Homo sapiens: one gene and its partners. The protein of the gene in region 3 purifies or fractionates together with the protein of the main gene of each other region. This does not show direct contact. Each region holds a gene or a part of one and is shown on either strand. Other genes may lie near its edges. The genes, in order: PICK1, VMA21 and ATP6AP2.

Region 1 (3,650 bases), on a different chromosome or scaffold from region 3:
TCTCCAGCACATCCTTGCGCATCTGGGAGAAGCGGGCGCGCGCCTCCTGGCGGCAGCGCAGGATCAGGCGGTACTCATAGTTGCCGGTGCTCACCCGGTAAAGGGGCTCGCCTAGGGCCTGGGGCGGGGGTGGGACAGGAGTGCCTGCTCAGGGACGGCCTCGCACCGCACTGTGCTTTCAAAGCCACGGCTGTTCTTCATTCCTGAGACCTCATTTCTGAGACTTCAGTGTTTCTCAGAAGCACTCAGTGATAGCTTTGAAGAGAGGAAAAAACCAAACCCAAACCTCTGCCACATTCAATGAACACTGGCCACGAAATGGATCCCGACAGCAGAAAAATCAAACACTTAAAAGCGCCTCATAGGAGTGAAGAAAATCCGATTTCCCTCCAAGAGTCCCCCAGACTGAGGGAGTGGTTCCCGGCCGGGTGCCCAGCACCCCGAGGCCCAGCGAGCGGGACTGGGAAGATGGCCCTAAATCTCCAGGAACGAGAGTCCAGCCAAGTCCCCCCGGTCTCTCCCGGGTTGGCCTGAGCCACCTGCTATCCCTGGCAGACCAGGTGGGGGGAAGTACAAGCCCCCCACCCCCTCCAACACTCACAATGCAGCTGTATTCCTCGTCATCCATCTCCTTCACCTTCAGGCAGTACGACTGTGTGGGACAGGTGAGGCTGTCAGAGTGGCTACTACCCCCACCCCAGGTCCCCAGCTCCACCCCCATCACCCACACGCAGCAGGAGAGGCTGGCGCAGGTGTTCAGGGAGTCCCAGAGCGGGCAGCGGCAGGTGCTGAGGGATGACAGGGCCTGAGGCTTAGGCGGCCGAGTTGACCAAACTCAAGGCCCAAGAGATGCTCTGGGGAAAAAGGGGTCTGTCGTTAAAGGAGCTTAGGAAGACCCTTGAAAATTCACACTGCACATCAGCCTAGCAAAGGCTCTGATAAGTCCTGCAGCAAAGGAACCTTGGCTTGCTTAATAGAGCATTTTCTCTCAATTCCTTTGACTGTAGAATAATTAAATGTAAAACTCACGAACGTTCACTGACACCCATTTTATGCTCACTCACCTAGTCTAACCCATTGTTTAAAGGCAACAAATCCCAAGGGGTCAGAGTGCACACAGCGAGAGCCATGCCCGCCCCAGGCTCTCAGATGCTTCTTTGTGCAGGCGCAGCAGGGCTTTGGCTGCACCTCCCTGGGCCTCTGGGCCCACACCTGGAGCAGACATGCTGTCAGCTCTGGCTGGCCTCGCTGGCCGCAGCATGGCTGACTGAAGTGGGGCAGATCTCCAGGGTGGGCGCTTGCCCTAGCAGCCTGGGCACCTGGACTACTCACCAGGTACTCAAACTTCACGTCCAGGTACTTCTTGATGGTGAGGCGAGTGTCCGGGATGGCTTTGTTGAGGTACGTGTTCAGATCCGTCAGCATCTGGAAGAGGGTGGGTGGATGCTGAGGCTGTCACGGCAGGGGTGTGCCAGGGTGACAATGAATGGCACTGATGCGTCACCCTTGTTGGTGGACTCGACTATCAGAGCCAGATGGTGCTCCCTGATGCCTTGTCCCTCTCAAGGATGAGAAGACTAGTGCCAGGCCTAGGGCAAGCTGTGACTCAGTGGCGAGCCAGGGTCAGAAGCCAGCCCAGAGGTCAATGGCAAGGCCCAAGGGGGCACAGTGACTCACCCACAGTCCACTGTGTGGGTGACTGAGCCAGAGGCTGTACCCAGGCACAGGACTCCAGCATACGACCTTCTCTGCATGCCACACTCTCCCCTCCCCACCCTCACACGCCAGACACACACATGCTCAATAGGACCTACCGGCTTGATGGTTTTCAGAAGCCGAATGCCGAACTTCTCGATGCTGCGGTGGGCATCGGCGAACTTCACAAAAGCCTCGCTCGCAGCTGGCTGGGGCTCCCGCACCCCGATCACGGAGAACACGTCCCCAAAGGCTGCAGGACAAGTTTGCCTTGAAGGCTGCCCCTACTTGGCCCCCTAAGAGAAGCCAGGGGTTTGTTGGGGAGAAGCAGGGCAGGGGGCCTGGCAGGCTGGAAGCCAATGTCTGCACAGGGGCTACACCTCCAAGAGAGCTGGTCTAAACCCCCTGAAGGAGCTGAGTCTACACCTGGAGGAAACTGGATTGACACCTCCAAGAGCTGGTCTGTGCCCCCTAGAGTCCTGAGTGTACACACCAAGGGAGTTGGCCCTCATTCCCCAGAGGGACCAGTGAGAGAAGACTGGGTCAAGGTTTGTGGAGGTGGCGCCGCCTGAGGCAGAACACTGGTCCGAGTCTAGACACCTGGATTGGAACAACAGCTCCACCACTTGGGAGCAGTGTGGCCCTCTCCTTTGTCTGGGCTTCATTTTCTGCAGTAGCTGGGGTCAGCTGCAGTCGGCCTGCCCAGAGTTACAGGTTGTCAGAAATATAAATAAGCAAGGGCCTTGTGTACTGCCAGTGGCAGTGTGAGGAGACAGGGTGGGGCCTGTTCATCGTTGCGGCCCTTAAGAGACCAGCTGATCTAGATGTTCCCCGCAGGCCCATCGCAAATCCCAGCACCTGGGACCAGGCCCAGCCCAGAGGGAGCCTGAGGTCAGGCGCTGTGGGTCTGACCCACCTCAGCATGGGAGTGAGAGGCCCCAGGGATTGCCCACGGTCACACCACAGCTTTGGGGGATGCCATTACCCCGGTGAGTCTGCGACAGCTCATAAAAGGCCCGTAGGAGGTTCTTGGTGTGTTCCGTCATCCCTGTGGGAGAGACCGAGTGATGCGGAATGGGGACGCATGGCGGGGACCACACTGGCCCAGGGCAAGGCCTCCAATTGCCCATGCCACCCAAGGCCTCTGCTAGGCCCTGATACATGGCCTTTCCCCACCGCCCAACCACAGCCCAGGGGTAAAAGCTCAGTCCGACCCAACCCGTGAGGAGCCCCATCAGACAGGGGCGCCAGCATTTTGTAAGATGCAGGGGTACACAGCCTGCTGTGGGCTTTAGCCCTGGGACAGTGTGGGATTCCGGGGGACTCTCGCTATGTTTACAAGTGCTATTCTCTGAATTTTTATGAGTATCAGGTTTTGTTTTTTTTGAGATAGGGTCTTGCTCTATTGCCCAGACTAGAGTGCGGTGGTGTGATCTTGGCTCACTGCAACCTCTGCCTCCCTGGTTCAAGCGATTCTCATGCCTCAGCCTCTCGAGTACTGATTATAGGCACACACCATCATGCCTGGCTAATTTTTGTATTTTCAGTAGAGATGGCGTTTCACCATGTTGGCCGGGCTGGTCTCAAACTCCTGACCTTAAGTGATCCGCCCACCTCAGCCTCCCAAAGTGCTGGGATTACAGGCGTGAGCCACTGCACCAGGCCCCTGAGTTATTTTTAAATTCAGAAGAAGTATATATTCTTAAGAACTCTTAATGCCCATGGTCCTAGTATTTTGTAGGCTGGCATTCCTAGTGCCAGCACCCCTGTTGCCACTCTGCTGAGAGCATGCTCCCTGGGGTAGAGCTAGTGCCAGGACGAGGCCACCCCCCACCCACCTTTGTATAGCTCAGCGGTCCGCTCCAGCTCCTCTAGCCTCTTGACAAGCCCATCTGTCGGGATTCAAAGAAGAGGGGAGGTCAGTGGGCTCAGCAAGCCACAGGAGGCCCAGGGCC
Region 2 (3,650 bases), about 110 Mb from region 3:
CCAATAGGAACAGTGATCATTAAAGCTGTGAAGAACAGGAGCGTCTTCAGTGTAGATGCTAATGAGCTTTCATTTCTGGAATAAAGTAAACAAAGAGAAAATCAGAACCTGCACAGTCATATCCAAACGCTCTTATGTCCCTGAAACTATAAACATCCACAAATGAGATGCTATGCAGGAGGAAGATCACAGGCAGGGACTCGTAATCCGAAGATCCTAGAGAACCAGCTGTGGGTAGTGGGAATTTCTTGAGCTGGAACATGAAGATTATACACCACCTTTAGGGACTGTCATTCATATCCAGTGTAAGACGAAGCGTCAGGGCACCTCAGATCAACTGCCAACAAGCTGGGTGAACAAACTAAGTGAAGAAACTCAGTGCCCCTGCCTCTGGAACTGGAGCTTTTACCCAGGGAAGCCACGGCGGACAGCGGCACCAGTGCCCAACCCATGCGGCAACCGTGTCCACCAGCACCAGACACCAGAGCTGGGAACGCAGCAGGCACCATGGGTGGATCAGCGCGCCCTCTTTTGCTGGAATCAGAGCTTCCGTCACGGGAAGCGACCAGCTTGCTGTCCTCCAGCATGAGACAGTGGACCAGGGAACTAACGAGGCAGACACACCTGTGCACCCTCCCACACTGGAATCAGAGCTTTTGCCCAGGGAAGCCACTGTCACACTGGTCCCTGAGCCCACGCAGCAACCCTGACCACCAGCACCGGACACCAGACCAGGGAACTCGGCAGGCACCACAGGTGGAGCAGTGTGCCCTCTCCCGCTGGAATCGGAGCTTGCATCTGGGAAAGCTGCCAGCCTCCTGTCCTCCAGCACCAGACAGTGGACCAGCAAACTAACCAGGTGGAGCCGACGCACCAGCGTGCCCTCCCCCACTGGGATCAGAGCTTTGGCCCAGGGAAGCCACTGCCACACCAGTCCCTGAGCCCGTGCAGCAACCCTGACCACCAGCACCAGACACCAGACCACTGAAGGAGGTAGGCAGGGCGAACGGACCAGTGCGCCCTCCCCAGCTGGAATAGGAACTTCTGTTATGGGTGAAAAATCGAGCTAGAGGGAATACTTCCAAACACGTTTTAAGAGGCTCCAATCACCTTGATACCTAAGCCAGACAGACACAGCAAGAAAACTACAGGACAACATCACTGATGAACACTGGTGCAAAATTCCTCAATAACATATTTTCAAACCAAATTCAACAATAATCAGGCCAGGTGTGGTGGCTCACACCTGTAATCCCAGCACTTTGGGAGGCCGAGGCAGGCGGATCACTTGAGGCCAGGAGTTCGAGATCAGCCTGGCCAACATGGCAAAACCCAGTCTCTACTAAAAATACAAAAATTAGCTGAGAGTGGTGGCGTGTGCCTATAGTCCCAGCTACTTGGGAGGCCAAGGCACAAGAATCCCTTGATCCTGGGAGGCAGAGGTTGCAATGAGCCAAAATCACACTCCAGTCTGGGCAACAGAGCAAGACTCTGTCACAAACAAACAAAACCAATACATCAAAAAGATTATATATTATGACCAAGTAGGATCATCTCAGTTGATGCAGAAAAAGCACTTGACAAACTTCCGCATCCTTTACTGAGCTGAAAAAGAAATCAAGAAAACAATCTCATTTATAATAGCATTAAAAAAAAATACTTAGGGGCCAGGCTCAGTGGCTCATGCCTGTAATCCCAGCACTTTGGGAAGGCTGAGGCTTGAGGCCGGGAGTTTGACGCAAGCCTAGGTAACACAGCAAAACCCCACCTCTACAAAAAAAAATTTTGATAATTCGCTGGGCATGGTGGCACGTGCCTGTAATCTCAGCTACTCAAGAGGCTGAAGTGGGAGGATTGTTTGAGCCCCAGAGGTCAAGGCTGCAGTGAGCAGTGATTGGGGCACTTTACTCTGGCCTGGGTGACAGAGCAAGACTCTATTTCAAAAAAAAAGAAACTTAGGAATAAATTTAACCAAGGCGATGAGTGACTTGTACACTGAAAAGTATAAAACACTGATGAAAGAAATTGAAGATGACACAAATAAATGTAAAGATATCCTGTGTTCATGGATTGGAAGAATTAATACTGTTGAAATGTCTACAGCACCCAAAGCAACATACAGATATAACACAATCTCTATCAAAATTACAGTAGCATTCTTCATTAAAATAGAAAAACAATCCTAAAATTCATCATACAGAACCACAAAAAGCCCCAAATAGCCAAAGCAACATTGAAAAAGTTGTAAGCATCACACTTTCTGATTTAAAATATTACAGTTATAGTAATCAAAACAATATGGTATTGGCATAAAAACAGAAACATATAACAATGAAACAGAATAGAGCCCAGAAATAAATCCAAACATATATGGCCAACTAATCTTCGACAGGGGTGTTAAGAGGAACACAATGGGGAAAGGACAGTCCCTTCAATAAGTGGTACTGGGAAAACAGGATTTCTACATGCAAAGAAAAAAACTGGACTCTTACACCATAAACAAAAATCAACCCAAAATGGATAAAATAACTAAAACATAAAGATATAAAGTTTTAAGACATAAAAGAACACAGAGGGAAAGGTCCTTAACATTGGCCTCAGTAATGATTTTTTGGATATCACACCAAAAGCTCAGGCTACAAAAGAAAAAATAAAGCGGCTTGCATCAAACTAAAAAGCTTCTGTACTGCAAAGGAAACAATCAACAAAATGAAAAGGCAGCTTACAGACTAGGAAAACATATTTGCGAACCACCTATCTTGTAAGGGGTTAATACCCCAAAATTTATAAAGAACTCTTACAACTCAGCAGAAAAACCACCTGATTAAAATATGGACAACAGCTGGACAGACATTTCTCCAAAGACATAAAAATGGCCAAGAGATAAATGAAAATGTGCTCAACATCACTAAATCATCAGGGAAATGCAAATCAAAACCACTATGAGATATAACCTCACACTTCTAAGGACAGCTATTATCAAAAAGGCAAGTGATAACAAATGTTTGTAAAAGTGTGGAGAAAAAGAAACCCTACTACATTGTGACTGGAAATGTAGACTGGTACAGCCATTATGGAAAACAGTTCCTAAAGAAATTAAAAATAGAACTACCACACAGCCCAGCAATCTCTCTTCTGGAATATAAGCAAAGGAGATGAAATCACTACCTCGTAAAAATATCTGCACTTCCATGTTCATTGCAGCATTATTCACAATAGCCAAGATTTGAAAACAACCTACGTGTATGTAGACAGACAAAATAAAGAAACCGTAGTGTATATATACAAGGGAATATTTTATTCAGCCTTAAAAGAGGACATCTGCCATTTGCCACAACATGGATGGACCTGGAAGACATGTTAAGTAAAATAAGCCAAACGCAGAAAGACGAATACTACATGAGCTCACTTATATGTGGAATCTTTAAAAAAAAAAAAAAAAGGTCAACGGTCAACTACACAGGGACAGAGAATAAAACAGTAGTTACCATGGCGGTGGGGGTGGGAGGCTGGAGGGGAGGAAATAGGAAGATATACATCAAAGGACACAAAGCAGTAGATATATGGATTAACAAGTGAGATATCTAATGTACAAGAGGACTATAGGCAATAAAGTTGCATGGTATTAGGGACTTTTGTAAATAAGATTT
Region 3 (3,650 bases):
TAGTATGAGCTAGGCTGAGTATTATTTGCATTGTCATAATAATGAAATGATGCTGATCAAGTGAAAATTTTGATATAACTATTGGGTAAGAGTGGGGAGATAGAAACAGAAGCAGAGCGCATGGATGGCTCAGCGCATGGATGGGGCAGTGGTTGGTGATGTGAGAGAGCTAAAGCCTCATTTTCTATAATGGATAGTAAATAGACAAGACCTAAAATTGAAAAATCAGGAGATGTAATTTAAGTGTCTTATTTAGAGATGTTAAAAGCAAAAAAAGTCAACAAGAAAAGATAGTTGGAATAGATGCACTCCTAAATAATTCATGGGTTGAGGAGGAAATCACTGTGGAACTTTTTAAATTATTTGGAACTGAGTAACAATGAATGTAGCATTTATTTACAAAATTGGGAGGTGCAGCTAACGTGGTAAGAAAAGGGAAATTTATAGCCTTAAATGCATGTTTTAGACAATTTAGGTTGTCTAAGAATGGAAATTAATGAGCTAAAGAAAGCGGAAGAACTTCAGAGTAAATACACATAAAGTAGAAGGAAGGGAACAATACAGATCAAAAGGCAGATTATTTCACAGGGAGCATTTAAGTCATTTTTTATGTGATTTCTGTGAAAATCATTGCAGAAGATTTTCTTTAAAATTATAAAAATCCAAAATGCCATTTTGAGATTTTTATTAGCATGTAATCCAAAAATAAAGATTTAAAAACAGACTAGCCTCATTTTACATGAGAAGAAGCTGTGCTGTGTGAGGAGCTCATTTTATTGCTTGGCCCTGGTTGGCTGCTCAATGCTTTTCCTAGCAGAAGATGGTAAATGAGATAAAAGATTCAGGGGCAAACCCCACAAAACATAAAAATCAGAGTATCTTAGAATTCCATTTAACGAAGCTTCCATTTGATTAGCTAGCTGTTTTAGTTAGAATTTCAAGTCATACAGGTACAGAAATTTGAGGACAGATATGCATCTCCCTTACAATACAGTGAGAGAAAAACCATCATTCGATATTAAGCAGCCAAGCTTTTTACTTTTTGAGCTTAGCTGCCTATATAATTATTTCTTTTCCTTCATTGGTGTTCATTTGATTCATGAGCTGCTTCAATTTGATCGCTATGGACATGGTTCCTAATCTTCAACTTTCCTGAACCGAGCGCCATTTCACTAAGTGAAGTGAGGCTGGAAAGTTTGCATCATTTGCTCATGTATTCCCCTCACAGCCTGAGGAGGTAAACTCTATGATCGCTAAAGGAAAGCACCTATAGATGATTCAGGGCGGCTGCTAGCAGTATGCTTTTGCAACTTTGAACTCTCTTCCCCCTCTTCACTTACTCATTAACTCATTTTGAGAGAATTTGGGGAAGAGTTAATAAGCATCTTGAGTAAGAGAAAAAAATTATTTCATTTCACAGAATCATAAAATTGATCACTTAATATTGATGCTGGGCCTGGGCATGGTGGCTCACGCCTGTAATCCCAGCACTTTGAGAGGCCAAGGCAGGCAGATCACATCAGGCCAGGAGTTTGAGACTAGCATGGCCAACTTGATGAAACCCCGTCTCTACTAAAAATACAAAAATTAGCCAGGCGTGGTGGTGCGTGCCTGTAATCCCAGCTATTCAGGAGGCTGAGGCAGGAGAATCACTTGTACCTGGGAGGTGGAGGCTGCACTGAGCCGAGATCGCGCCACTGTACTCCAGCCTGGGCAACAGAGTGAGGCTCTGTCTCAAAAAAAAAAAAATGTGATGCTGGGATTTTATCAGTAAGACATAATCACATTGATTTCTGCCTGTATCATATTAGCGTTACTTTGCTACTTGTAAACATGAATCTTTAAGTAGTAAGGGAACTACTGAATGAAAGATCAATGTAAGAAATCTCCATTAAAACAAAAACATGACTGTACTGCTTGTTTTAATACAGTAATACTGGGAATGAAATAATTTTTTTAGGGGAAAAATAACTGTAATTTATTTTTTTAAATCATGTACTGCAAAACAAATCTATGGGGATAGAAGTCAGAATTTTTGTTACCCTTGAGGGTGGAGGTAGTACTTCGAGGGCGCTGATAGTGTTCTGTGTCGATCTGGCTGGGCTACCTGAGTGCATGCATGTGTAAACATTTGTTGAGCTGTTACCCCAAGATTTGTATACTATATTATATGTATTTTGCACTTTAATAAAAAAATTGAAGGAAAAAAGTAGGTCTTATCACCATTGGTTATTTCAATCTAATAATATCAACATGTCCTAAGATAAAGGCTTCAAAAACCTTGTGACATACTTAACACCTTATCTAAGAGTCTTTAGGCTATCTGAAGACAAATGTTAAATCTCATTAAACATTTTTAAAATTTTGAAATGAAAGATGAATTCCATTTTTATTTCAATTAAATTCAATACTCAGATTCCTCTAACCTCTTAAATGCAAATTAAATACTTTATTGTGGAATATGCATTCATCGTGGCACATTTAGTCAATATTGAAACCAAATGTATTGCTGCTTCAAATACATGAATGACCACCAGAAAATGGTTTGTGCTAGATATAGTGTTGTGTCCATCAGGTTTAAGTTATTTTCCACTGAGGCATGATGGGAGATACAGACTTGGCTTACCAGGGGGCTGTTTAATCTTCTGTGCCCTCAAAAGGGCTTGTTTGGAAATGATTTCGGGCTTCTAAATTTCCATAGAAAGTGCTGGAAAAAAGTTTAAGGCTTCTTTTTAAATACCATCTGAATGATTTTTCTTCCCACTTTGGTTCACATAATAATTGCGTTCTTACTCTTAAATTTCAGGCAGTTCCTTTTAGTCTTGACAGTGTTGCAAATTCCATTCACTCCTTATTTTCTGAGGAAACTCCTGTTGTTTTGCAGTTGGCTCCCAGTGAGGAAGTAAGTGATAAGGGTTTTATTCAAGACATTTTAAAAAATAAGCTTTTATTATTTGAAAATTATGAAATGTAATTTTATTATGAAAATATAAAACTAATTTATGAACAATGTTGTCATACCTCTGGGTATTGGAACTAATCTGTAGAATTTGAGCAACTTAAAATTTTCTATTCTTCTTACAGAGAGTGTATATGGTAGGGAAGGCAAACTCAGTGTTTGAAGACCTTTCAGTCACCTTGCGCCAGCTCCGTAATCGCCTGTTTCAAGAAAACTCTGTTCTCAGTTCACTCCCCCTCAATTCTCTGAGTAGGAACAATGAAGTAAGTGCAGTTATTCAATGAATACATGAATATCATTAATTTCCGTCTTTTTAAAAAATAGAGACAGGGTCTCACTCTGTTGTCCAGGCTGGTCTTGAACTCCTGGCCTCAAGCAATCCTGTCTTGGCCTCCCAAAGTGCTGGGATCACAGGCTTGAGCCACTGCATCTGGCCTCCCATTCCTTATACTACTTGAAATTTTGGAAATTTTGCTATTTTAGAAAATGAAAGATTGTGCACATTTACTGCTGGGGTAGATTCTTCTTTAGTGTAATTTTCTTATGACTCTCATGAATAAACTGATCCTTTTTGTGAGTTGAGCTGTGGTAAATAACATCACATTTTAGCACGAGGGTTGCCACCTATTAATTCAAACAAGCCAGAGGTCATAGATCTACTTGGTGACTGGTGGAGCTGTGTGGATCTGGT

The links.
Region 1: the proteins of ATP6AP2 (region 3) and PICK1 purify together in Homo sapiens (affinity purification with mass spectrometry; 3 studies listed by BioGRID and IntAct, with this or other methods). This does not show direct contact.
Region 2: the proteins of ATP6AP2 (region 3) and VMA21 purify together in Homo sapiens (affinity purification with mass spectrometry; 4 studies listed by BioGRID and IntAct, with this or other methods). This does not show direct contact.

Annotation. Positions count from the first base shown.
Region 1 is NC_000022.11:38,070,775-38,074,424, reverse strand, and holds part of PICK1 (PRKCA-binding protein), read right to left. Parts: intron 3,588-3,650; coding exon 3,534-3,587; intron 2,744-3,533; coding exon 2,681-2,743; intron 1,949-2,680; coding exon 1,815-1,948; intron 1,426-1,814; coding exon 1,333-1,425; intron 653-1,332; coding exon 602-652; intron 119-601; coding exon 1-118. UniProt on the Homo sapiens protein: Probable adapter protein that bind to and organize the subcellular localization of a variety of membrane proteins containing some PDZ recognition sequence.
Region 2 is NC_000023.11:151,400,056-151,403,705, reverse strand, and holds part of VMA21 (vacuolar ATPase assembly integral membrane protein VMA21), read right to left. Parts: intron 76-3,650; coding exon 1-75. UniProt on the Homo sapiens protein: Required for the assembly of the V0 complex of the vacuolar ATPase (V-ATPase) in the endoplasmic reticulum.
Region 3 is NC_000023.11:40,594,443-40,598,092, forward strand, and holds part of ATP6AP2 (renin receptor precursor), read left to right. Parts: intron 1-2,806; coding exon 2,807-2,902; intron 2,903-3,084; coding exon 3,085-3,222; intron 3,223-3,650. UniProt on the Homo sapiens protein: Multifunctional protein which functions as a renin, prorenin cellular receptor and is involved in the assembly of the lysosomal proton-transporting V-type ATPase (V-ATPase) and the acidification of the endo-lysosomal system.